7 linked regions of the Homo sapiens genome follow. The protein of the gene in region 2 purifies or fractionates together with the protein of the main gene of each other region. This does not show direct contact. Each region holds a gene or a part of one and is shown on either strand. Other genes may lie near its edges.

The links.
Region 1: the proteins of SDHA (region 2) and SDHAF3 purify together in Homo sapiens (affinity purification with mass spectrometry; 2 studies listed by BioGRID and IntAct, with this or other methods). This does not show direct contact.
Region 3: the proteins of SDHA (region 2) and DGKG purify together in Homo sapiens (affinity purification with mass spectrometry, with the first as the bait; one large-scale study listed by BioGRID). This does not show direct contact.
Region 4: the proteins of SDHA (region 2) and SDHC fractionate together in Homo sapiens (co-fractionation; one large-scale study listed by BioGRID). This does not show direct contact.
Region 5: the proteins of SDHA (region 2) and SDHAF4 purify together in Homo sapiens (affinity purification with mass spectrometry; 2 studies listed by BioGRID and IntAct, with this or other methods). This does not show direct contact.
Region 6: the proteins of SDHA (region 2) and PDSS1 purify together in Homo sapiens (affinity purification with mass spectrometry; 2 studies listed by BioGRID and IntAct, with this or other methods). This does not show direct contact.
Region 7: the proteins of SDHA (region 2) and PDSS2 purify together in Homo sapiens (affinity purification with mass spectrometry; 2 studies listed by BioGRID and IntAct, with this or other methods). This does not show direct contact.

The regions. Positions count from the first base shown.
Region 1 is NC_000007.14:97,116,221-97,120,497, reverse strand, and holds the start of SDHAF3 (succinate dehydrogenase assembly factor 3, mitochondrial precursor), read right to left. Parts: upstream 2,801-4,277; 5' UTR 2,775-2,800; coding exon 2,601-2,774; intron 1-2,600. UniProt on the Homo sapiens protein: Plays an essential role in the assembly of succinate dehydrogenase (SDH), an enzyme complex (also referred to as respiratory complex II) that is a component of both the tricarboxylic acid (TCA) cycle and the mitochondrial electron transport chain, and which couples the oxidation of succinate to fumarate with the reduction of ubiquinone (coenzyme Q) to ubiquinol.
Region 2 is NC_000005.10:224,820-228,319, reverse strand, and holds part of SDHA (succinate dehydrogenase [ubiquinone] flavoprotein subunit, mitochondrial), read right to left. Parts: intron 2,902-3,500; coding exon 2,758-2,901; intron 2,438-2,757; coding exon 2,273-2,437; intron 136-2,272; coding exon 1-135. UniProt on the Homo sapiens protein: Flavoprotein (FP) subunit of succinate dehydrogenase (SDH) that is involved in complex II of the mitochondrial electron transport chain and is responsible for transferring electrons from succinate to ubiquinone (coenzyme Q).
Region 3 is NC_000003.12:186,355,735-186,359,234, forward strand, and holds part of DGKG (diacylglycerol kinase gamma), read right to left. Parts: intron 1-3,500. UniProt on the Homo sapiens protein: Diacylglycerol kinase that converts diacylglycerol/DAG into phosphatidic acid/phosphatidate/PA and regulates the respective levels of these two bioactive lipids.
Region 4 is NC_000001.11:161,313,100-161,317,180, reverse strand, and holds the start of SDHC (succinate dehydrogenase cytochrome b560 subunit, mitochondrial isoform 1 precursor), read right to left. Parts: upstream 2,801-4,081; 5' UTR 2,776-2,800; coding exon 2,756-2,775; exon of another isoform or gene 2,307-2,755; intron 1-2,306. UniProt on the Homo sapiens protein: Membrane-anchoring subunit of succinate dehydrogenase (SDH) that is involved in complex II of the mitochondrial electron transport chain and is responsible for transferring electrons from succinate to ubiquinone (coenzyme Q).
Region 5 is NC_000006.12:70,580,430-70,583,929, reverse strand, and holds part of SDHAF4 (succinate dehydrogenase assembly factor 4, mitochondrial precursor), read right to left. Parts: intron 1-3,500. UniProt on the Homo sapiens protein: Plays an essential role in the assembly of succinate dehydrogenase (SDH), an enzyme complex (also referred to as respiratory complex II) that is a component of both the tricarboxylic acid (TCA) cycle and the mitochondrial electron transport chain, and which couples the oxidation of succinate to fumarate with the reduction of ubiquinone (coenzyme Q) to ubiquinol.
Region 6 is NC_000010.11:26,721,701-26,725,200, reverse strand, and holds part of PDSS1 (all trans-polyprenyl-diphosphate synthase PDSS1), read right to left. Parts: intron 1,396-3,500; coding exon 1,284-1,395; intron 1,188-1,283; coding exon 1,078-1,187; coding exon of another isoform or gene 1,074-1,077; intron 1-1,073. UniProt on the Homo sapiens protein: Heterotetrameric enzyme that catalyzes the condensation of farnesyl diphosphate (FPP), which acts as a primer, and isopentenyl diphosphate (IPP) to produce prenyl diphosphates of varying chain lengths and participates in the determination of the side chain of ubiquinone.
Region 7 is NC_000006.12:107,267,565-107,271,064, forward strand, and holds part of PDSS2 (all trans-polyprenyl-diphosphate synthase PDSS2), read right to left. Parts: intron 1-3,500. UniProt on the Homo sapiens protein: Heterotetrameric enzyme that catalyzes the condensation of farnesyl diphosphate (FPP), which acts as a primer, and isopentenyl diphosphate (IPP) to produce prenyl diphosphates of varying chain lengths and participates in the determination of the side chain of ubiquinone.

The sequences.
Region 1 (4,277 bases), on a different chromosome or scaffold from region 2:
GGGGGGAAAAAGACTTGGAAGTCTTAAGTATATTACTCTCTGGTGATAAAACTTCTCTAGCCAGGTTTTTCTCCCCTCCAATCATTAGCATCTTCTCTAGCCCTACTCTTTCAAAAAGACCAGTTCTTCAAGTATCTTTCCTGGTAGGATCCAACCTACCACGTCTAACTCCCAGGCTTAGATTAAGCTGCCTTGTAACTGTGATAATTATGTTATACAAAGAGATTACTACGTTTAAATTTATCTTTACCCAGCTGCCAATTCATTAATTCCAGTAGATCAACAATGGTCGGGGAAGACAGGAAAACTGTTCTCTACAGACGCGTGTCAACTAATAAATTCAGAAGGAATGAGGGAAACAAAAGAGCCACCATTGGAACACAATGGCAAAATCCATCAATGAATGCTAAGACTAGTAATCATCTGAAAGCCTGAGAGTACCTACCCCCAAATATGTATTAATTTCAAAAGAGAAAATAGTAAGTTTACAGTAGAGACACCACGTGGATTATTACTTTAACCAAGTGATCACAGTTATCATCACCAGTAAGAAGTCATGTTAGTATCATGTGCCCTCTGACATTAAGTGTTGAGGCGAACACTTTGCCCATGTGGTATTCTTACTGAGATGTTATGAAATGCATAACATCAATTTAACCATGAGAAAACATCAGACAAACTCAAATTGAGATACATTCCACAAAGTAACAGACTAGTACTTTTCAAAAAAGTATCAAGGTAATGAAAGATAGGAAGACGGAGCAACTGTCACAGAATGGAGATTAAGGAAAAAGAATAACTAAATGCATTGTAGAATCCCCATTGGATCCTGGAACAGAATAAGGACATTAGTGAAAGGGCTGGCAAATTGTAAATAAAGTCTGTAGTTAACAGCATTGTAGCAATGTTAATTTCTTGTTTTTGATCACTGTACCCTGATTATGTAAGATGCTAACACAGGGGGAAACAGGATGTAGGGAACTCTCTACTGTCTTTCTAACTCTTCTGTATGTCTAAAATTATTCCAAGTTTTAAAAAGCTCAATCCCAGTTACCAAGCCTACTAGGTCAACTAACACATTTTTTATTTATGCAGTTCTTTTTTATACCCTCTCTCTCTCCTACAACCTATTATCAATTTTTTCTGAGTTGCTACTCTTTCCTACTTTTTCCCAAAGAGGCTTCCATGTGCTTACATTTTAAGACTTCTTAAAATAACCTTATTTCCTCCCAACAGAGAGCTACTCTCCTTCCTGTACGGCCACAAAATGACCTACCATAAAAGATGTAAAATACTTTAATACAGTATCTTATAGCTTCATAACAATTAGCAATACACAAGTGCTTGTAAATACATTTACATACGTAAATTTTGAGATGCATAAACACTTATTATTTTATAGATGAGAAAATAAGACTAGAAAAATTATGTGATCTGACACTTAAAATGTCAGAGACTGAATCTGAATCCAGTTCTTCAGGCTCCAAAACCAAATTACCTTATTAAAATAAAGTGCTCTGTGTCTGAAAAGCTTCAACTTCCCTGCTTCAGGCAAGCGAATTACATCAAATACACCATGATTTTCAAGAAAGTTCTAAATTTCCCGATTGTTCTAAATGTCGCTCTTAAAAGCTTCAATAATTATACAAAAAAGAATTCTGGAAGTCAGTGCAAAGTTTGTGTTCACCCTAACCATTCTTTTGATTTTTTTTTACAAAGCCGACTTCAGTCATCTCCCCTTCAACTATTTAGGCCGAAGAACCGCTTACCTCTATTTTCATATCAGCTCCAACTCATGCTTTCAAATATCTGAGCTGTCATTCCAATCTCTAATTCCATTCATTTATTTATATTTGCAAATGAAAACTAGGGGCAATCCTGCAGGGCCCCGAGCCCCACGAAATACTCTGAATATCTTTTTTCCTTTACTCAAAAAAAAAAAAAAAAAGTCAAACGACTTATTGCTAATGCATGTGTCTGTTTAATATTTAGCGCAATGGTGCAGGGCGAAGTAACAATGACTTGAGACCGGAGGAAACAACTTTCGCCTGACTTAACTGCCACCAGCATTTTTCTCCTTCACAGTTTGTAATCTCCAACCTTTTGTAATCTTTTTCATGTTACCTGATTTCTGTATCAGCCAAGTGAGAAAATTATTTAAACCCAACCAAAAGCGCTGAGATTAAATAATAAATTACGGAAATAAGCCTTTAAATTTGAAAACTAATAAGAGAACCATTAATTTATTAATGGGCGCTTACTAGGTGCAAAGGCACTTAAAAGGACAAAAAGCTCCTGAGGTTTTTGAGCACTTAACGACGACTTGCTCATTTTTGTGACCTCCTACCCTCACCCTTTGAGCACCTGGCATCTGCAGGAGCTCAAAAGTTGAACTGAATTGGGGACGCTGAAGTAACAGGATCTGCTCTAGTGAGAAACCCGTGGGAGAAACTTTGGAAAGTGTTACCTGAACAGCATTACGCTATTTCAAACAGAACAGGTTGCTGCTCTGTTTAACCCCGCATGGGGGACTGGAACTAGAAACCTGGACACCGAGGAACCCCAAAGGTCTTGGGCAAAGAGAAGGGAGCGTCACTTGCCTCCCATTCTTGCAAGAAACGCTGTGCCTCGTCAGAACCAACGGTCTTATGTCTCCTAAATTCGTCTTTCACGTACTGGTCGCCCAGGGATTTGAGGTCCGGGGGCAGAACACGGTGCAGCTGCAAGACGCGCTTGTACAATGCCCGGACTCGAGAAACGTGCCGCCCCGGCATAGCGCCCCACGCCGACCGCCGACTGCGCCTGCGCAGAGGGACGGCGCGTTCCCGCACTTCTGCGAACTTGCGTATTAGTGAACCGGAAGGCAGACGAAAGAGGGCGCGCGACCTCTATCCGGTTTGGTCCCTTGCACAATCAGGTCCTCCCGGAAACCCAAGCTCCGCTGCGGGCGGAAAACGGGTCGGTCCTTCTCTAGGAGGGGCGTGGCCCTCGTGGAGTCGCGCCTGCGCCTCGTCGTGGCTTCTTCTGGCCTGCGTCCTGACGACACAGGCCTTGAAAGAGAGAGGTCTGTGGTGGGCCGTTGTCATTTCTCAGTCCCACTCCACTGTCTTTTTCATTCAACTTCGTTTCTGTCCTCCTACCAAAGGCCTGAGAAAAGCTTCGTTAAGATCGGGCTCCTCCGGGATTCCTTCCATGGTTCCCAACCCATTTGAGGCATTTAGAGTATTACTGCACCCTGCTTTAGGGATCAGAGTGAGATTAATCTCGCCATCCACTAGCTCACCAACCCACGCTCTTTGCACAGCGCTGTTCTCCCAATTTATACTCTGGGCATGGGCTCTTCCTTGCAAACAACCCAAGTGAGCCCAGAGCTGGCGGACTCCTTAGCCAAAGTCAAGTTGGCTGCTGAAGGATCCTTGGGAAGAGTTTTAAACGTATTGTTTCCAGGACCACGACCCTGGAGATTCTGGTTAAATAGTCTAGGATAATAAGAACGAGGAATCTAGAAATTTACAAAGCTCTATCTTTTGCGAAGGTAATACTGAGAGTAGAACTGGTTTCCAAAGCTGGCAGCTCCTTGTGTTGTCCTTTCCTGTCACACGTTTGGTTCTTCAGCAAATCCTGATGGCGTCACCAACAAAAATGCAGAAATCAACCATTTCGCCCCATGTACTCTACCACAATCTCTCTCCACTGGATATTGTGTTAGCTTCCATATCTGTGTTCAGCTTCTGGTCATGACCAACTTTGGTCATGCTCCAACATAATTTAAATTAAATTTGGCCTAAAATTTCCTCCCTACTCTGAGTTGCTATGTAGGGAACTGCAACCTAACTTAGTATGTAAATTAACTGCAACTGAGAGTATATTCTTGTGACAAGTAGCTGAGCTTCAGCCAATCACAGGCTGCCAACTGATCAGACTATGTGCATATAAGGCAAATACGTCATAATGTCCTGCCCAAATAAGACTAGCCCAACTGTAAGCAATCAAGCTGTTTCTGTGGGGCACTTCCTTTTTCTGTCTATAAATACTGCCTGCCCACAGTGCTGGGTAGAGCTCTCTGAACCTCTCCCTGTTAAGTGCTGCTGCCTGATGAATGCCTCATAAATCGTGTGTGTGTGTGCACGTGCGCTCGTGCAAATAAACTTTATTAGATTTAACTTGTTTAAAGTTTTTCTTTTAACAATCTAAACTGTAAATCGGATCATTTCACTCCTCTGCTCAACAAAAGCCTCCAGGGATTTTCATCAGAGTAAAGCCCAGTCTCTAGCCCT
Region 2 (3,500 bases):
AGTGTTCTTTGCTCTTATGCGATGGATGGACCCGTCCTCTATGCACAGTGCGATGACACCACGGCACTCCCCATTCTCCATCAGGAGATCCAAGGCAAAATACTCCACAAAATAGCTGGTATCATATCGCAGAGACTAAAAGAAAGGAAAAAAAAAGGGCAAGAAGTGTTAAGCCAAACTTTAAGGTTTTAAGGTGGTATCTGCTCATGTGAATAGGTGAAAGAACTTGATCCAAATGGACCAGGTAAATCCAAGGAGATCAGCAACAGTGTCAGTGACACTGTCAGAGCCCGAGAGGCATTCCACGCCGAGCAGTACAGACAAGGCAGGTGTGCTAGAGAACGCAGCAGCAACAGCTCCTATTTTGGTGACACATTTCCTACTTCTACACAACCCGAAGAGGCACTCCACACTGTCCGGTGGCCGCATGCAGCTCCACTCGGAGTCTGGTGCCAGAGTGAGGTCCGCAGACCATGCAGTCACAGCCCAGATGGGAGCTACTGGCAACACATAACCACTTAATTAATTAAAATAAGTCAAAACATTCAGCTCTTCAGCTACACCTGCCACATTAGCAACAGCCCCATGTGGCTGGCAGCTACCAAAGCGGACGGTTGCAGACGAGCAGATTCCGGCACCGCAGAAAGGTAGGCGCCGGACAGCGCTGCCCGCCTGGACCTGCCGTTCCCTCAGCCAGCACAAGTCGCTCTTGTAAGCCTGGGCCAGCTCCCCACATGACAGCTCCTGCTCCAGATGGAGCCGCGGTCTCCTCCCACCACACACTTGTCGATGCACTCAGCCACAGAGAAGTCACTGGTGTTCTAACAACCTGCAAATTAACGATCCGTCCCCATGCATCAGAAAACAACAAAGTTCAGAATATTGATTACTCTGAATCAATACCGTTCAGAATATTATTTGGCCATGCCAAAGTTGACTCTGATTACCCAGTAACTATTGTCACCTCAAGTCTTTCTTCAGTGTTAACAGTTAATATTAAAACAATCCATGGCCGGGTGCGGTGGCTCACGCCTGCAATCCCAGCACTTTCGGAGGCCAAGGCAGGTGGACTGCCTGAGCTCAGGAGTTCGGGACCAGCCTGGGCAACATGGGAAACCCTGTCTCTACTAAAATACAAAAAATTAGCCAGGCATGGTGGCGTGCGCCTGTAGTCCCAGCTACTCGGGAGGCTGAGGCAGGAGAATCACTTGAATCCAGGAGGTGGAAGTAGCAGTGAGCTGAGATTGTGCTACTGCACTCCAGCCTGGGTGACAGAGTGAGACTCCGTCTCAAAAACAAAACAAAACAAAACAAACAAAACCAATCCATTCAGGAACTCAGAGGTGGTAAAAGAGACTTAAAATACTTGTTCTTTTTTTTTTTTTTTTTTTGAGATGGAGTCTCATTCTGTTGCCCAGGCTGGAGTGCAGGGGTGCGATCTCGGCTCACTGCAAGTTCCGCCTCCTGGGTTCACGCCATTCTCCTGCCTCAGCCTCCCAAGCAGCTGGGACTACAGGTGCCTGCCACCATGCCTGGCTAATTTTTTTGTATTTTTAGTAGAGACGGGGTTTCACAGTGTTAGGCAAGATGGCCTCAAACTCCTGACCTTGTGATCTGCCCGCCTAGGCCTCACAAAGTGCTGGGATTACAGGCGTGAGCCACCGCACCCAGCCTGTTCTTTCTCTTTTTTTGAGACAGGGTCTCCTGTTGCCCAGGCTGGAGTGCAGTGGTACGAACATGGCTCACTGTAGCCTCAACCTCCTGGTCTCAAGTGATCCAGGAGCCTCAGCCTCCTGAGTAACTGGGATTACAAGCATGTACCACCATGCCCAGCTAATTTTTAAACTTTTTGTAGAGACAGGGTCTTGCTATGTTGTCCAGGCTGGTCTCAAACTTCTGGTCTCAAGTGATCCTCCTGCCTTGGCCTCCTAAAGTGCTGGGATTACAGACCTGAGCCACTGTGCCTGGCCTGCTTGCTCTGCTCTTGTATGTTGAGTGTCACATATCCCAAGTTAAAACCTGGTATGTAAGATTATCGATTCAACTTTCTGACATAGATGCAAGAAGTCACACACTGCCTTAGGGACAGCTCCTCAAGGCACACGTCTGGTCCTGTCACATCCACAGTCGCTGCATGCGCCCCACGCTGCTGTTCTCTGTTGCTTTTTACGTAATCTCTGGCTGACTCACTGGGCACGCTAACCCATTCCCCACTGTCACCATAAGCCCCAGCACTACGTGTCCTGTCTCAGGTGGACGGGGGCGGCCTTACCCTTCCATATAAGGTGTGCAATAGCGAGTGGCCAGTCCGATCAGCCACACAGCAGCACCGATGGGCCTGCCCGCCCTTTCCAAACTTGAGGCTCTGTCCACCAAATGCACGCTGATAAATCTTCCCATCTTCAGTTCTGCTAAACGGCATGCCATAATTTTCTAGCTGTGAAAGATAAAAACAAACAAAAACCTTAACACCTTAAAGGAGTCAAGATATTCGCAGCTAATCTACACTAAACAAGTTTAACACAAATCTGCAAACCCAAAGTAACCTATTTTATGAAAATGTCAACACTTCATCAAAGAGAAGTTTTCTTGTTACATATAATGCATAGTTCATAACGGAAAAAGACTCTTCTTGTGAACTTTGCTCATCACCATTCTTTTGGCTGCCACATCCGCCTCAATTGCTTACATTTTTTTCCAGGATTCTTTTGTACTAGAAACAGACCACGAGAACACCCAGAGCCTCCCGCCCATCACCTCGACCACGGCGGCGGGGGCCTGCTCCGTCATGTAGTGGATGGCATCCTGGTCCCCCAGCCAGTCGGAGCCCTTCACGGTGTCGTAGAAATGCCACCTCCAGTTGTCCTCCTCCATGTTCCCCAGAGCAGCATTGATTCCTCCCTGGAAACACCAACCACTCCTTACAAGCCACAAACAGGAGCGCCAACTTTGTCTTCCAGGCCCAAATCCACCCGCTGGGGGGATTCAGAGAAAGCCAACTACTCACACAGTGACTCCCAGTGAGGGCTGACCTCAGCAGAGGAGCAGCGAGACCCGACAGATTCCAGATCACAACCCCTCCCCGACTCGCCCAGTGATTCCATCCTTAGCCTCAGTCTCCTCATCTGCGTGGTGGAGACACAGGGAACTCCAGGAAGGGCTGACTGGAGCAGTGAGTGAAAGGCTACCTGTAATATGCTTATAACCTAACCTATCTGGCACAGAAAAGGTACTCAACAAATCTTTCCAGATAATTTTATTAACAAATCTTCCCAATGGCATTTACGGGCATGTGTTAAAGACTAGAAGTGCTTCCTGCCAAGTAATAAACTCCACACTCAGAGTCGCACTCCCCTGTACCCCAGCTTCCTTTGGCTGTGTGTGCCCACCACTGTCTTACCCCTCAGAGAGTCCCAGAAGACAGAAGCACAGGGACAAATGAAACCCTTGCCCTTTTCTTCCCCAACCTAAATTCTGATTCCTCCTCTTTAGGTGATCTC
Region 3 (3,500 bases), on a different chromosome or scaffold from region 2:
TACCACCAGCATCACCACCACCATTACCACCATCATCACCACCACTACCATCACCTTCATGAGAAATAAAGTTCTACTTTTTAAAATGGGAAAATTTATAAAAATGTCTTAATTTGAGGGACTGATGTTAATTCCAGGGAACATTCTGGAATGGGATGTGGAATGAGCTTTTAGGATTGAAGCTGTGATTTCAAGGAACCAGCATGGAATCACTGAAATTAGTTTATGTCAGACCAACAAAATTGCTTCTTTGACAAGATTATTGGACGGAAGATCAAGGAAATACCAGTGATGAAGAATATTTGGAGTTTATCAGAGACCTTTGATAAGATTCTTCTAATAATGTTGAAAAAGATGAAGAAATATGGGCTCAGTTATAGTACAGAAAGCTGAATAAATTTTCTAAGTAAGTGCTGTTTAATTATTGAATTAATATCTATGTTTAGGGAACATACAGTGGAATGCCTCAGAATCCCATAGTGTTCATTATTTTTATTGATGACTTAGATGAAGAGGTCGTGCTCATCAGATTCAGAGATGGCAGGAAGCTGGCTGAGAGGGCCGGTAAATACACTGGATGCTAGAATCACAGCCAGAAATATCTGGGCAAGTTGGCGAGGCAGACTGAACTGAACAAGATAAAATGAGAAACAATGCACAGTCTCTAGAGTGGCTGTGAGGGGGTGTGGGCAAGTATCGGGTGAAGGCGAGCAGGTGGGCAATGCAGTTCAAGAGCAAGTTTAAAAGAGAATTGGGTTACTTCAGTTGATATTAAGCTCAACAGGTGTCAATGGTATAGATTCTTAATTAGACCTTAAAGAGTTTTAATAGAAATAGGAAATAGAATGAGGAGGTGGTAATTTCAGTCTTCTCCATGCTGATTAGGACTCCCTTGAAATTTTGCACTTTATTCTTTAAGAATAAAGAAATTAGAGAAAACTAGGACAAGAGTGATGATAATAATAGTGAGGGCACTGGAGCAAATGGCCCATGAGGTAGGGTGGAGCAGTGAAAAGGGCGTTGGCCAGGGATTTGAGAGCCAAGTTACCCCATTAATAGGTTGCGAGATCTTAAGAGCTGGTTCAGGACTCCCTGAGGAGAAGCACAGACTATGGTGGTTGACTGGTCTGCTCTTGTAGGTTTTTGGTTCCCCGCCCTTTTCCCCCTTCTCTTCCAGGGGAGGAGATGGGGCCAGCATCCACCAACTCCCATCAGTAGGAGAGGGGAGAGTTGCTGGCTTCTGGGTTCTTTCCTCGCAGAGGCTCATGCATGCACAGCCTGGGCCTCTGGGAGTGTCCAGGTTGGAGGGATCCTCGCCATCTGTTGATGGTGTTGTGTGGGGAGTTGGAGCAGTTGGGGGAGCTGGAACAGATGATCTTAGTAGTTACTCCCATCTCTGAGAGTCTAGATTTCAAGACACGCTGAAATCAGGTCAGGCCACACTATGGATGGGTTCCTTTCTCCCTCCTTCACCCATCCAGGGACAGGTTCTCTTAAGACCCTGAGCAAAATTTTGCACTCTTGATATGTGATTCAGAGTCATAAATTATACCCATTGTTTCTCTTGGAAAGCTTTCAAAAGTCCCCTTTCTGTGATTTCCCAGGAAGCCAAGATGGTGGCAATCCTAATCCACATCACAACACACAGCAGTTATTGAGGCAGTAAAGCAAAAGGTCCAAGAAAAAAAGAGAAGATAAATAAAGAGAAAAGGCTTTGAAATCATATAGACCTGAGTTTCAATCTCAGTCTCTCCTATCAGCTTTGTGACCATAGGCAAATTACTGAAACTTTCTGAGACTCAGTTTCCTTATCTGTGAGATGGGGTTAATACCAGGAGTGTAGTGATGTGAATATCAGGTGAAGCTATGCGTGCACAGAACATAGCCCAATGTGGGACTCAGAGTCGGTGCCCAGTAAGTGCTATTGCTAATATTACCACAACATTTACTACCACCATCCCTCCTTTATCTTTCTCTCCCTCATCTCTTCGGGGCTAGGCACTGTGCTAGTGCAGAGGATACAGTGGAAAACGAGACAGACATAGACACACACTTTGCTTGCACCAAGCTTACACTGTAGCACAGTCCAGTTAAACTTTTTGCAATGATGGAAATCTTTTAAATGTGCATTCTCCAATATGATAGCCAGAAATCACATGCTGCATGTAAGCACTAGCAATGTGACTGGTGTGACCGAGGAACTGAATTTTAAATTTCATTTAATTTTAATGAACTAAAGTTAAACAGGAAATAGTCACATGTGAAAACAGACAGCACAGCTCTAGACACCTTTCAGGTATATTTCTGGGACTGACTAGCCTGAGCAGAATAAAGGTATGCTGAAAGAGAAATGCACGTAAAGCATCCAGTACAGGACCTGGAAAATTCTCTTATTCGTTCATTCGTCACATTTAATTGTTGACTATGGATTGGCACTATCTCAGGTGCTGGGGATACAGAAAAGGATTAGACATGGTCTCTGCCTTCAGGGGGCTCATAGTTCAGTGGGAGATATGCAAATAGTGACTTCGCCATAGCGAGGTAAGCTTACGCACAGGTGCTGTGGATTCAGGACATCTCTAGGGTGGGCTTCCCTGAAGGATGTTTCCGGACCTGAGCTGAATCTTGCATAAATTGATCTCAGAGTGGGAGCAACAACAGATTATATTCCAGGGCTACTAAACCCACTGCTGGTGGCAGAGGTGGCTTGGAGATCAACGAGGCTCTAGGAACAACTCATAGCTAGGGCCAGTTTGTTTTCTTCTAACCCTTTGTGTGTGTGTGTGTGTGTTTTGTATTGCCTAATTCAATCTCTCTTCTGCCAGCCACATTTTGTTTCCACCTGAGGACATTTTTTTTAAATGATGGGTATAACTTTATTTTTAAATTGTTTTATTACTATTAATAGTTACTAGCCTTGATTTCTTTTTTTTTTTTAGTCAGACAAACTCTGTTACTTATAAAGTGACATCAGCTCTCACTATGGTTGGGTGTGGAATTCTGATACTTGGTACAAATAAACAACTCTTTGAATATGGCCAGTATGTGAGGAAGCTGTTGCTGATGGGTTAAGCTTGCTGAACCTGGCTGTGATCATGATGCACGTTCACAAGAGTGAATGTTGTTATAATGACTTGTATGGAGAAGTGGGACATTATACACATTTGTATATTTTACATGATGGTTTGATTTGTTCAAAGTTAGTATGTGACATTTAGCTAGAGAATTCTGCAGCTGATACTTGCTCACATAAAAATAGGTATAGCTTTATGTTGTATGGTTTCCATAATCCCTCCCGAGTGTATAAAGCAAGGTGATATGTGTGATTCCTTCTTCCATGAGACTGAAGAATGCTCGTGTGATGTGGCTTGGTCGTGTGAGGCCTTGGCCTATTTGGATTCCTAAAGGTCATCTGCTTGAACTATGGCCGAGTTGTTTCTGGTGAATGGAATCCTAAATTAGTGTACCCTTTTTGAAAAGTGGCTTCTCATATATACTGT
Region 4 (4,081 bases), on a different chromosome or scaffold from region 2:
GCGTGGTGGCAGACCCCTGCTGTAATCCCATCTACTCAGAAGGCTGAGGCAGGAGAAATGCTTGAACCCGGGCAGGGGCGGTTGCAGTGAGCCAAGATCGTGCCACTGCACTCCAGCCTGGGTGACAGACCGAGACTCCGTCTCAAAAAAAAAAAAAAGAAAAAGAACCAAAAAAAAAGAGACCCCCAAAAAAAGAACAAAAAGAAAAGTTTAACCAATATTTCTCTTAAGTGGGCCCAAGTTATTGCCGTTTGCAACACAAATGAGGAAACCAAAATCATGGAATCAATGACCTTGACTTGTCCAAAATAAATGTAGAACCAGAAATCAGCTCCTAGGATTTCTCAGAAGGTATTTTCCTTTGAGGTTAAATCAGCACATTATAAACAGTTCCAAATCCCTCTAGTGAAATGGAATTAGACTGGGAACTTCTATCAAGAAAAAAAAAATTTTTAATTCCTCATTTATCCTCCTAAAAAAATCCCTTATGAGAAATGGAGGTGTCCTTTCCACGAGAGCTTCAGATTACCACTAATGAAAAATATACCTTTCTTGGCATTGAATCCTAGTGTGGACTATGGGGAAAAGAAAGAGAGATCAGATTGTTAAGGTGTCCGTATAGAAAGCAGACATAAGAGACTCCATTTTAATCTGTAACCCTACCTCCAACCCTGTGCTCCCTTAGACATGTGCTGTGTCAACTCAGGGTTAAATGGATTAAGGGCTGTGCAAGATGTGCTTTGTTAAACAAATGCTTGAAGGCAGCATGCTCATTAAGAGTCGTCACCACTCCCTAATCTCAAGTACCCAGGGACACAAAACACTGCGGTAGGCCGCAAGGACCTCCGCCTAGGAAAGCCAGGTATTGTCCAAGGTTTCTCCCCATGTGATAGTCTGAAATATGGCCTCGTGGGAAGGGAAAGACCTGACCGTCCCCCAGACCCCCGTAAAGGGTCTGTGCTGAAGAGGATTAGCAAAAGAGGAAGGAACGCCTCTTTGCAGTTGAGACAAGAGGAAGGCATCTGTCTCCTGATCATCCCTGGGCAATGGAATGTCTCGGTGTAAAACCCGATTGTATATTCCATCTACTGAGATAGGGGAAAACCGCCTTAGGGCTGGAGATGGGACATGTGGGCAGCAATACTGCTCTTCAAGGCATTGAGATGTTTATGTGTATACGTATCTAAAGCACACCACTTAATTCTTTACCTTATGATGCAGAGACCTTTGTCCTTCTCTCCACTATTATCCTATGACCCTGCCACATCCCCCTCTCCGAGAAACACCCAATAATGATCAATAAATACTAAGGGAACTCAGAGGCCGGCGGGGATCCTCTGTATGCTGAACGCCGGTTCCCTGGGCCCCCTTTTTTCTTTCTCTATACTTTGTCTGTGTCTCTTTCTTTTCCAAGTCTCTCGTTCCACCTAACGAGAAACACCCACAGGTGTGGAGGGGCGACCCATCCCTTCAGTGGACAGCGCTGCACAACTCAAAATGATACTGTATGGATACACTTAATGACTATAATGATCCTCAGCTTTTAAACACTAATTCCAAAACTCCTAAAATGAACTGTTTGGAACCAATATGATCACTTCAAACTAAATGTTAATTTTACCAAAAGCCCCTAACATCGATACCAAAATATATCAGAGAATTCAAAAGCATTCAATTATGGTCAAACCATCTGGAATAAAGAAGACAGCACTGGCAAGACAAGCCTTGGCATACCTTAGACAGAAGATACATATGGAGATGAAAAACAGGGAGAAAATGAAGGATTAAGATAACCCTGATTTCAACTCCAAGAGGAATCATTTTGTCACAGAAAAACTAAACAAAGTCCCTCTATTTTTAAACTGGGTGACTGAAGTGGAAAGAGAAATGAGAACACATTTGGGGAAATCAGGGATTGAAATCTCAACAGCATTGAAGCTAACTTTCCATAACAAACAATTTCCAAAAATAAGGCTGGCACAAAACTATGCTGGGATTTGTACCAGGCGTGTCTAAAGGCGCTAGTCGCTGTGACTAGAGAGGCTGAGCAGAGAATGAGACCTAGACAGCGGAAAGTTCAGAATGAAAGAAAATCTAGGGTATTTCTCTGGACAACTAATTCACATTTTAGAGAAAAACTGGGACACTCACTCTCCCTCCCAAGTAAAATGATTAACTAAAAATGAATTCCCCGGGTTGCTCTGGGGCAGCAGAGGTCCGCCCTGGGTGCTAATGCTAATCGCCACCCCAGTAGGGATCCACCCTTTGCCAGCAGCCCGCTGGGAACCCAGACAGCGCCCACTCACGGTGGGAGCAGCTAGTGTCTGAAGGCATTCGAAGCAAAGGCAAAATACACGAAGATCTCTCTCTCCGAAGCTAAATGTCTAAATACGCTCTCGAAATCGTAGGACCCATGGGTGGCTGACCTTGAAGTTATTTTCTCAGAGCTCGGCTCTGGGTGCAGGCCCGAGAGCAATTTGCGTTAGAAGTACTAGAGGAGGTGGGGAAAACAGAAGGGGCGAGAGCCGAGGGCCCCTCGATACGAAGTCAGTGACCCCGAAGCCCTACGGAGCGCACCGGAGCGGCTGGGGGGGACGGGAAAAGGGGTCTCTAGGATCCCCGAGCGCTTGGCCTCCACACCCATGGGTCCTTTCCCTGCCCAGGCACAGGATAAACAGTTATCAGCAAAACGTGAGGGGCCAGTTCAGATCTCCGGAGGGCCGCAGGCACCAACTCCCAGTCCCACTGAAGTCACCTCAGCAACAGCGCAGCCATCTTGGGTTCCGGTCTGGACGGAAGTGACGCCAGGCGGCCCCGCCACCCGAGGGCGGAGGCGCGCCGGCTGGGGGTCGGGGTTGGGGGTGTCATGTGACGAGAGTCTCTTTAAAAGGCTCTGGAGCTTCTCCGCTCAGCTCTGCCTAGCTGGTTTGCTGGTTGTTTTCTGGTTTTTTAGTCTCCTCCTCCGCCTCCTGCAGCCGACTTCTACCGGAATTTGCCAGGATTTCGGCAGAAACGCCGCTGGCTCAAAATCTGCAGTCTACGTTCCACCTGCGTACATATTCATTTTGTATCGCACTCCCAAACAGCAAACGGCGGACTTGTTTAGATTCTTCCTTAAGGACTTCGCAGTCTGTTGCGTTCCCCCTGCCTCCCAGGTCGGCCTAAAAACGTGGTGGTTGGCCGGTTGAGACCCCGAAGAGAAAAGATACTTTGGGTTCCCTCCCTTTCTAATACGAAGCTTTAACCAGACAGATACATAAATTGTGACCTAAGTTGGGGAGTGTGTAGAGGGGCCTCGAGAAGACCTTGCGGACCACCATTCCCGAAAACGAGGAGCCTCATCTAACCACCTCGATTAGACCCCACAATTCCTGGGTTTGAGCTGCCACATGGACCAGGCGCCCACTAGCCGAGGACAATGCTCCCTTGTTCGTTGTTTCAGCGCTATGTGGGTGACACCCACAGCTAGAAGAACCCGGAGTGAGGGGAAGAACACGCTTTGATTTATATATGTGTATATATATATATACAGTTTTAGGGAACCCAAGCACAGGAATCAACTGCCGAGCACTCAAGACTGAAGAAAGAAGAAGAGCAAATGATAAAGGAAGGGAACAGAGCACAAAAGTTCTTGACTCTTGTGGGGAGTAGGGTGGAGAGGAGTAAAAGGGACAGGCTAGAGCAACTCCTATTTCTACAAAAAAAATACTCAATTATATTAATATTCAGATCTTATGTATATTTAGCATCCCTGCACTTCAGGATTTAAATAGCACAAATTCACTTATTTCTGCATCAGATGAATAATACTACTTTGCATTTCTATAATGCTTGACAAAGCACATTCGTACACTTTAGGATTGAAAGAGGCTCTCTAATCCAATCTACTATCTATGCAGGGATCTCCTCTGCAACACCCATAACAGCTGATCTTCAAGACTCTACCCCCCCATATTCAATGATGGGTACCTCAAACAACAAGTTTTATTTAATGAACAACTTATTCGTTAGTTATTATATTTAAATACAGTTTTGTGCTATCGAAATTCCAGTCATTGACTTGGCTCTCTGGAGCTTCACG
Region 5 (3,500 bases), on a different chromosome or scaffold from region 2:
CAAATACATTTCCTCACTGCTCACTGCATAAAGCCCTTACACTGTAACCTGGGATTTCAGGCCCTCCCAGATTTGAGCTGAACCTGTGTGTCTAGCTTTATATTCAATTAATCCAAGCCTGTCTAACCCACAGTCCACGGGCTGCATGTGGCCCAGGATGGCTTTGAATGTGGCCCAACACAAATTCATAAACTTTCTTAAAACATTGAGTTTTTTTGTGTGATTTTTGTTTTGTTTTGTTTTTGTTTTTGTTTAGCTCATCAGCTGTTGTTAGTGTATTTTATGTGTGGCCTAAGACAATTCTTCCTCCAATGTGACCCAGGGAAGCCAAGAGATTGGACAACCCTGTATTAATCAAATATATATATAATTTATGCTGAAGCCAAAGAGGCCCATTAGCTGTGTCTTGTAAGTGTTAATGTTCTGCAGCCTCTTTCTCTTTGACCATAGCTTTCTCCAGGTATTTTGAAATGTCTCCTCACCACACCTTATCTACTTATAAAAATTTTACTTTTCCGGCCAGGCATGGTGGCTCACACCTGTAACCTCAGCACTTTGGAAGGCCAAGGCAGGTGGATCACCTGAGGTCAGGAGTTCGAGACCAGCCTGACCAACATGGTGAAACCCCGTTTCTACTAAAAATACAAAAATTAGCCAGGTGTGGTGCCAGACGCCTGTAATCCCAGCTACTCAGGAGGCTGAGGCAGGAGAATCGCTTGAACCCGGGAGGCGGAGGTTGCGGTGAGCTGAAATTGCGCCATTGTCCTCCAGCCTGGGTGACAGAGCGAGACTCCAACTCAAAAAAACAAAAAATTATTTTTCCTTAGACCCCAGCTCAAACGTTATCTCTTTTGTCGACTTTCCTCTGATCTTTTTGTGTATCTCTCATGCTAGTTACCACATGATGTCCTGTTCATCGTTATTTACATTATCTCATCTTCCTTTCTTATTCATCTTTATGTCAAGCAGGGTGCCTAGCTACAAACATTTTCCTTTATGATCTTAATAATGAAATCTACTCTTTTCAAGGAGACAACCTACACAGTTTTCTTAGAATAAAGTACATACTAGAGGCAGGGAGACAAGACTAGAAGGAAGGAAACGAGGAAGCAGAGAGGCTTGTTAGGTGACCAGTGGAGCTAGAGACAGCTTGAATTTGGGCCCTACTGGTAGGATGAGTAAGAGGGAATAAATTTGAGAGATGTTAAAAGGGTAGAAGCAACAGGACTTGGTTAGTGATCAGTCACAGGAGACAGGAAGAGGCAGGAGTGAAAGATTATCCCCAGATTTCGGGCTTGGGTGACTTGGTAGATGGGGTGGACTGGAAATCCCGAAGGAAGAGGAGGATATGAGATCAGGCAGGTGGGAGGGCCGAAGGTGAGTTGGAACAATGGGTACACGATGACTTTAGTTTTAGAAATATTAATTTTGAGACTTCTGGAATGTGCAAAGAAAGATACTCAGGAGGCAAATGGAGACAGGAGAGTGATGCTCAGGAACGAGGTCTGATTAGAGGTATAAATGTATGAATCACCAACACATAGGTGATATTTAAAATCATTTTAAGCCGGGCGTGGTGGCTCATGCCTGTAATCTCAGCATTTTGGGAGGCTGAGGTGGGAAGATCGTTTGAGCCCAGGAGTTCAAGACCAGCCTGGGCAACATACTGAGCTCTATCTCTTAAAGAAACAAATAGAAAAATTAGCCAGGTGTGGTGGTGCGTGCCTGTAGCCCCAGTTACAGGAGAGGCTGAGTAGGGAACCCCAGGAGGTTGAGGGTGCAGTGAGCTGTGATGGCGCCACTGCACTTCAGCCTGGGTGACAGAGTGAGACTCTGCCTCAATCAATCAAATAAATCTAATCATTTTAGGGAAATATGAAATCTCCCTTGGAATACTTAGGGGGCTAAGAACAGAGGCCTGGCAAATACCCACATTTAGGTGTTGGGCGGAGGCAGAGGAGCTCAAAAAGGAGCCCAGGAAGAAACTGGTGAAGAAATAGGGTGAGAAACTAAAGAAAGCATGCCAGGAATGGTGGCTCATACTTGTAATCCCAGCACTTTGGGAGGCCGAGGCAGAAGGACTGCTTGAGCCCAGGAGTTGAGGCCAGCCTGGGTAACATGGCAAGACCTCATCTCTACAAAAAAATTTTTTAAATTAGGTGAGCATGGTGGTATGTGCCTGTGGTCTCACTTACTCAGGAGACTGAGGCAGGAGGACAGTTTGAGCTGGGAAGGTTAAGGCTGCAGTGAGCCATGTGTTCATGCCACTGCACTTTAGCCTGGGCAACAGAGCAAGACCCTGTCTCAACAAAACAAAACAAAACAACACACACACACATACATACACACACAAAAATGAAACTAATGAAAGCATAATGGAAATCAAGGCAGGAGATTTCCAGAAGCAATAGTTAACACTGTCAAAGGTTGTGGATTGTTCAAATAAAACAAGGATTGAAGAGTACCTGCTGTATTTGGTGATGTTTGTCAGAAATTTCTAAGGGATGGTAGGTTCAACATAAACTTGAGTGATACAAGACTTACGTTGAATGCCTACCATTATGTCAAATAGATGATTAGCTTTTGAAAAGTGCAGGTTTTTGCTTTCTTTTTTTTTTACTGTGGTAAAATATATATAACATAATATTTCTCATTTAACCATTTGTAAGTGTACAATTTGGTAGTATTAAATACATTCACTGCCAGACACAGTGGCTCACGCCTGTAATCCCAGCACTTTGGGAGGCCGAGGGGGGTTGGTCACTTGAGGTCAGGAGTTCAAGACCAGCCTGGCCAACATGGTGAAACCCCCATCTCTACTAAAAATACAACAATGAGCCAGTGTGGTGGTGTGCCTGTAATCCCAGCTACTCGGGAGGCTGAGACAGGAGTATTACATGAACCTGGGAGGCGGAGGTTGCAGTGAGCCGAGAGTGTGCCACTGCACTCCAGCCTAGGTGAAAGAGTGAGACTCCATTTCAAAAACAAAAACAACAACAAAAATATATTCACAAGGTTGTACAACCATCACCACTATCTATACCTAAAACATTTTCATCATCCCCACAATGAACTCTGTACCCACTAAACAATGACTTCTCCCTTAGTCCCCGGAGTCCCTGATAGCCTCTATTCTACTTTCTGTCTCTATGAATTTGCCTATTCTAGGTACCTTATATAAGTGGAATCATATATTTGCCCTTCTGGGTCCAGCTTATTTCACTAAACATAATGTTTTCAAGGTCCATCCATGTTGTAGCATATATTAAAATTTAATTGCTTTTTATGACTGAATAGTTTTCCACCGGATGTATATGCCACATTTTGTTTAATGATTCATTTGTTTGTGAACATTGGGTTGTTTCCACCTTTTGGCTACTGTTAATAATACTATGAACATAGTTACAGAGATATCTGTTCAAGTCCCTGCTTTCAATTCCTTTAGATACACACCTAAGAGTGGAACTGCTGGGTCAAACGGTAGTTCTAAGTTTGATTTT
Region 6 (3,500 bases), on a different chromosome or scaffold from region 2:
TTTGTGGCTGTAATTACATGGGAATGTCATTTGTCCAGGTTTTGTCTCTGTGTATCTGTCAGGCTTAGAGATGGGCAGATAAACAATTCTATGGAGAGACTGCTTTTCATTCTTGGACTAACGATGAATACCACACATTTGTCTACGGATTAAAGGTATTACTCATTAAAAAAAAAATGTATACATGTGTATGCACAGCGGAGGGAGGGAGAAAGCAAGGGGAAAAACAGTTATGGCTTATACTCAATTTGTACTCTGAAGAAATAGGACTTGTTTATATTTCATGTAAAAATATTAGAAGGATTGGCCAGGTGCAATGTATTGGCCAGGTGCAATGGCTCATGCCTGTAATCCCAGTACTTTGCAGGGCCAAGGTGGGTGGATCACTTGAGGGCAGGAGTTTGAGACCAGCCCGGCCAACATGGCAAACCCCCATCCCTATGAAAAATACAAAAATTAGCTGGGTGTGATGGCGCACACCTGTGGTCCCAGCTACTAGGGAAGCTGAGGCAGGAGAATTGCCTGAACCTGGGAGGTGGAGGTTGTAGTGAGCCAAGATCACACCACTGCTTTGTAGCCTGGGCCACACAGCAAAAGACTCTGTCTCAAAAAAACACAAAAAACAAAAAAACAAAAAAAAGTTCATAGAATGCTAGTACAATCTAACAGATATCTTTTCCTGAGTAAATATTATATTAAAGAACAGAGCACTTCATTTCTAAAAGGTGAAGTGTCAGAAAGAGTGTGTGTGATATCAATCATTAGAGAAATTATGATAAATTGTTCAAAATGATACAGTTTGGCAATCAGATTGGGGAAGGTGCGGGAAAGCTTATTTTGATTGAATTCTTGGGAAGAAAAGATGAAAAGTCAACGCCTGCATACCAAAAGAAGATGGCAAAAATGAAAACACAGCAGAAGTCCTCTATTGTTTGGGGATGTCATTCTTTTCCTCATTAACCTCTTGGGATTTTTGGGTACTATTTTAAGATTCTTCACCGAAATATTTTCTAGGAAAATTAGCTCCCAAAAAAGAGCTATGAGGCTTTAACTTGAAGAAAGACAGAACGTACATACTGCTTTACAACTGTTGGCTATCAGGCTGGCGGTCTTCTTGAATGTCTTCTCAAGGTAGTGTGCAAATCTTTCATTCTCATTTTCTTTTGACCCGAGCTGAAGAAATTCACCTATAAAGAAGGAAAGGAGTCATTTGAGAGGTGGCTTTATTGCCTGGCTAAACACCAGGGTTGAATAACAAAGAAGAAAAATCAGAATCAACGTACCACGCACCAAATCTTCAATAACTTGGGTTAAAATAGATATAACAGTTGTATTTCCAATTCGTGCCAGAGCTATAGATGCTGCAGAAAGAATTAAATCTCCAGCAAGAACAGCCTAGAAAAAGACAGGGGGAAAACAGAACGTTCTGAAAAATCCATCAGAGCAGTAGAGCCAATGATGAAACTGACTGGAAGGGAGCTTCGTGGAAGTGGGGGCTCATCTTGGATGCAGGGTTTTTTACCTTCTTCTTCCTCAACAGGAGTCCGTAACAATCAGTTACAGATTTGGAACAGTGTTTGAACTGGACTGGCTCTCAGAGATGACCATGTCACTTCCCAGTTCGTAATAATCAGTTACAGATTTGGGACAGTGTTTGAACTGGACTGGCTCTCAGAGATGACCATGTCACTCTTCCCAGTTTCTAATAATCGGTTACAGATTTGGGACAGTACTTGAACTGTATTGGCTCTCAGAGATGACCATGTCCATCTCCCCAGTTGACACCTGAAGAAATCAATGCCTGGAGAGGGAGAGCAGCTTCACTCACCAGCCCCACCAAAATGCAGCTGCCTTCAGTTTCACTACACTGGATGTTCATTCTTCCTTTGTGCCTTTCCACTTACTGTTCCTTCTGCTCAAAAAGTTCTGCCCCCTTCTTCACTGAGTGGACTTATTTGCATAATTGGTTCAGATGCCACCTCTAAGAAGTTCCCCCCGATCCCTCAGTCTGGTCAGATGCCTCCCTTTTGTGCGTGTACAACACCCATGCATGCTGCGACCATCACACCTTGCGTACCAGTCAGTGATGCTCTAGTCTCTATGCTCCCAGGGCAGTGGGGAGGGTGGAGTGGAGTGGGAGCTCAGACTAGGAATCATCTCAGCTAGTACTGAGCACACCCCAGAGCATGGCACGATACATGTTATTTTCAATAAAAATTAAACCAAAGAATTTTGGCTCCAAGTGAAATGCTTTTTGTACTATGTGACACTGCCCCTCATTCCTAGACAAAAAAAAAAAAAAGTTTTTCCATTGAACACTAAGCAATCAACATATTTCCAGTCTTCTTTAGACTGTGATGGATGTCTACACTGTATTAGCAACTAGTTATAAACTACTGCATAAATAGTTGAATTATATGCTATAACCAAATACACCCTATATATCACATTAATTTGCATATTTAAAGATATATATTACATTCTTTTTTTTTTTTTTGAGAAAGAGTCTTGCTCTGTTGCCCAGGCTTGAGTACAGTGGCATGACCTCGGCTCACTGCAGACTCTTCCTCCTGGGTTCAAGCAATCCCCCCACCTCAGCCTCATGAGTAGCTGGGACTACAAGCGTACACCACCACGCCCAGGTATTTTTGTATTTTTACTAGAGATGGGGTTTCACCATGTTGGCCAGGCTGGTCTCGAACTCCTGGCCCCAAGTGATCCAACTGCCTCGGCCTCCCAAAGTGCTAGGATTACAGGCGTGAGCCACCACACCCAGCCGTAAGTGTTACATTCTGTAGTAATTAGTCATAAAGGCTAGAGTTCACAGAATTTTTAACATAACTATTTAGGTACTTATTGTCTTAGGTTCTTCAGTATCTAAACAGTGATGTTCATTGTGTTTACCAATTAATCACCACTTTATATAATATACATATTATGTAAGACATCCTGATGTAAGTATATGCCTATAAAGTCATTTTACAAATTATGATATATAGGTACCCACTTACATTCCCCGACCCAGCCCCTACATCATTAGCAGCTCAAGGCTCGGGATCCTTTGGCCTTTAGTTCCTTCTTCACCTGGCCGGGGAGATCCTAGAGACCAAAGGTCCAGCATATGACATGGAAGCCACAGGACTGTGACGGCCAGGGGTGGGAGTTAAAGGAAAGAAGTGCTAGGAAGCCCAGGCCAGGCCTAACAAGGGCTCACCGAGGGGGCACTGTGTGTGGGGGGTTTTGTACCGGTAACATAGCAGTTGTGGGTCAGAGGCAGAAACAGGTAGGAACTGGCAAGTAGCCCTGTGCTAAGCAGATGGCTGTCAGAACTGAAAGAGGCAGGTGAAGGCGGCACATGTGTCCTTGACCTGCCCTCAGAAAGAGGTCCCCAGTGGCAGAGGCAGACACACAGGGGCTAGCCAAGGCGGAGACCATCATTTGTTCTCTTGATCCTCTTCCCCCGCCCAAGGCTCCACATAAGGCTTTAGGACTGGCTATGC
Region 7 (3,500 bases), on a different chromosome or scaffold from region 2:
GAGAGAGACATCAGATTCTCTTTCTTTTTTTTTTTTTTTTTTGAGACAGGGGCTCTATTGCCCAGGCTAGAGAAACAGTGGTGCATTCATAGCTCAATGCAGTCTCCAACTCCTAAGCTCAAGAAATCCTACCACCTCAGCCTGCTGAGTAGCTAGGACTAACAGCATGCACCACCATGCCTGTTTTTTGTTTTTTGTTTTTTTTTTCTGTAGAGACAGGGTCTTGCTATGTTGCCCAGGCTGGTCTCCAACTCCTGGGCTCAAGCTATCCTCCCACCTCCATCTCCCAAAGTACTGGGATGATAGGCATGAGCCACCATGCCTGACCAAGATTCTCTAATAGTCTGCTTAATAGGATCAATTCATTTTTTACTTTAGCTTTTAAAAAAATATGAATATAAATTAGATATTAAAGGTACCATACTACTTTCTCCCTTAAATTCCGCAGGTCTACCTCATGAGTATATGTGCTAGCCAAAAATGCAAACACATGATGAGAAGGTAGGGCAGAATGTTACTTGTCTCCTAGTATCTTTTATCTGTATCTTCCAGATTTTTGGCTGGATCCATGATGACCTACAATAAAAATTACATTTTCTAGCTTCCCTTACAGCTAGGTATGGCTATATAATTAAATTCTGGTCAACAGGATGTAAGCAGAAAAATCTCATATAACTTATGAGAAATGTCTTTAAAGTGTGAATACTATATAATTTATCATGCAAACTGGGACACAAGAGTAAAAAGAAGCGCTGAAACAACTAAAATTTTATACTTTTTGAAATATGTATTTATTTCAAAAACAAACAGCTGATTTTATTATATTGAAATAAATATGTATTTATTTCAAAAACAAACAGCTGATTTTATTATATTGGTGGACTCAACAGGTTCTATTCAAAAACTGTTTTCAAAAATAAAATTTCAAAAGAAATAAAAATAACATACATGTACATACAATAGAACAATAACTTCTTTATACTGATTATCTGAATATTTAAAAATAATGAGAATTATTATTGATGTATATCTACATAGTTTAATCCATTTCTTAGACATATCTGTCTCTAATATTGTGTCACTGGCATTTTTCTGAAGAATGTGTTCATTAAAATACAGTATTTAAAAATAAAACTGCCCGCAATATTCTTCACAGTTGCAGTTTATGGTTAGTTTGAAATTACTGATACTTTCAATTATGGAGAAAATTCTCTTTCTACAGGTTCTAAGTTACCTGATAAGTTCAGAGTAAATTTGCTAAATGGAGGACATAATTCTAATTTTAAAAATGTTGAACAGTATAAATATTTCAGCCCAAATATTTTTAGAGGCACTCTCTTTTTGCTTCCATCAGAGTATCTTACTTTAACAAATAGTATTTTTTTTTTTTTCCATACGGAGTTTCGCTCTTGTTGCCCAGGCTGGAGTGCAGTGGTGCGATCTCGGCTCACTGTGACCTCAGCCTCCTGGGTTCAAGCGATTCTCCTGCCTCAGCCTCCCAAGTAGCTGGGATTACAGGCATGCACCACCATGCCCTGATAATTTCAGGGTTTCATCATGTTGGTCAGGCTGGTCTCGAACTCCCGACCTCAGGTGATCTGCCTGCCTCAACCTCCCAAAGTGCTGGGATTATAAGCGTGAGCCACTGCACCTGGCCTAACAAATATTTTTATAAGACAAAACTTGTCAAATAAGTTGTCTCTATGATTCTTTTCAATGTTTTGCCAAATTTAGATGGTGCAAAATCTAGGCCTTCTCAATCTCATTTCGTGTGTCTGTGTGTGTGTGTGTGTGTGTGTGTGTGTGTGTGTGCAATTTATTCAAAGTAGGAGCACCACCAAGATTCTTCCTGCAAGGTGAGACATTTCAAATCGCAACTACAGAACTGAAAATTTTAATCTTGTATATCGTTTGAGTTGTTACTGTTTATATCATTCCTTCTTTGCTTTTGTCAGGAAAAATTCTAATGGAAGTTTTGTTTTGTTTTCATTAATTGTAATTCCCTAAAAGTCTCATGTAGTGTTCTGTTTATTGAATACTTGATTTAAGATTCTCAAGTGATGTTGAACGAAATGCTGCCAATTATTATTAGTAGTAGTAGTAGTAGTATTTTTTGACACAGAGTTTCACCCTGTCACCCAGGCTGGAGTACAGTGGCGTGATCTGGGCTCACTGAACTGAAACCTCCACCTCCTGGGTTCAAGTGATTCTTGTGCCTCAGACTCCTGAGTAGCTGGAATCACAGGCATGCACCACCACCTCTGGCTAATTTTTGTATTTTCAGTAGAGACGGGGTTTCACTATGTTTGCCAGGCTGGTCTCAGACTCCTGACCTCAAGTGATCCGCCTGCCTTAGCCTCCCAAAGTGCTGGAAATACAGGCGTGAGCCACCGTGCCCAAATGCCACCAAACTTTTGATGACCCATTTAGAATAAAGTTCAATACCACTGTTGGGGGCACAGATTGATTTATAAAGATTTCTAAAATCTGATCAACGACAGACAACAAAGAGAAAAGGCACATACTGCTCTGCTGAAGTGTATTATTATTATTTTTTTTTTGAGACCGAGATTCGCTCTTGTTGCCCAGGCCGGAGTGCAATGGCGTGATCTTGGCTCACTGCAACCTCCACCACCCAGGTTCGAGCGATTCTCGTGCCTCAGCCTCCCAAGTAGCTGGGATTACAGGCATGTGCCACCACACTCGGCTAATGTTCTTTGCATTTTTAGTAGAGACGGGATTTCACCATCTTGGTCAGGCTGGTCTCGAACTCCTGACCTCAGGTGATTCACTCGCCTCAGCCTCCGAAAGTGCTGGGATTACAGGCATGAGCCACCGTGCCTGGCCTGAAGTGTATTTTTCATCTGACATCCACCGTGCCTGGCCTGAAGTGTATTTTTTATCTGACATCAGTTACAACTCCCAAATCATATAGTTCAGTGACTGTGACTATTCAGATATTTGTAAATTTTGATGTAACAATAGCTTCTATTAAAATAGAAGACTTTTGGTGCTTGTTTAGATGTAATGATCAATTGTGTGTGTGCCACAACCAATGTCAACTACTCCACAGGTTGCTTAACGTAGTAAAAACATTGTTTTTACCACAACACTGTGCTTCACCAAAATTTGTACTTCTATTGTTACTATAAACTAATAATTTTATTTTCTATATTGAACTTTTAAACTGAATTTCCAATCTCACTCACAAAGGCTTTATGTTTAATAGAATATACTTCCAAAAACTTTACCTTAATCCCATGAATGAATGGAAAGAAAAAAACCAAACCATTTGTAGAATTAACTTAAATGATTTACTTACTTGAAATACCTGATGACACTGAACTAAAACTGGAATTATTTAACTGCTTTCAAAGTTCTTCTACTGACAATGATGCAAAAGAACTATTGCTTCCCTTTTCCTATATACACATAAACACTTGTAGTTGATAATCAGTGCAATCACTTAGCATAGTCATTTCTCTAAATATAAGTTATGT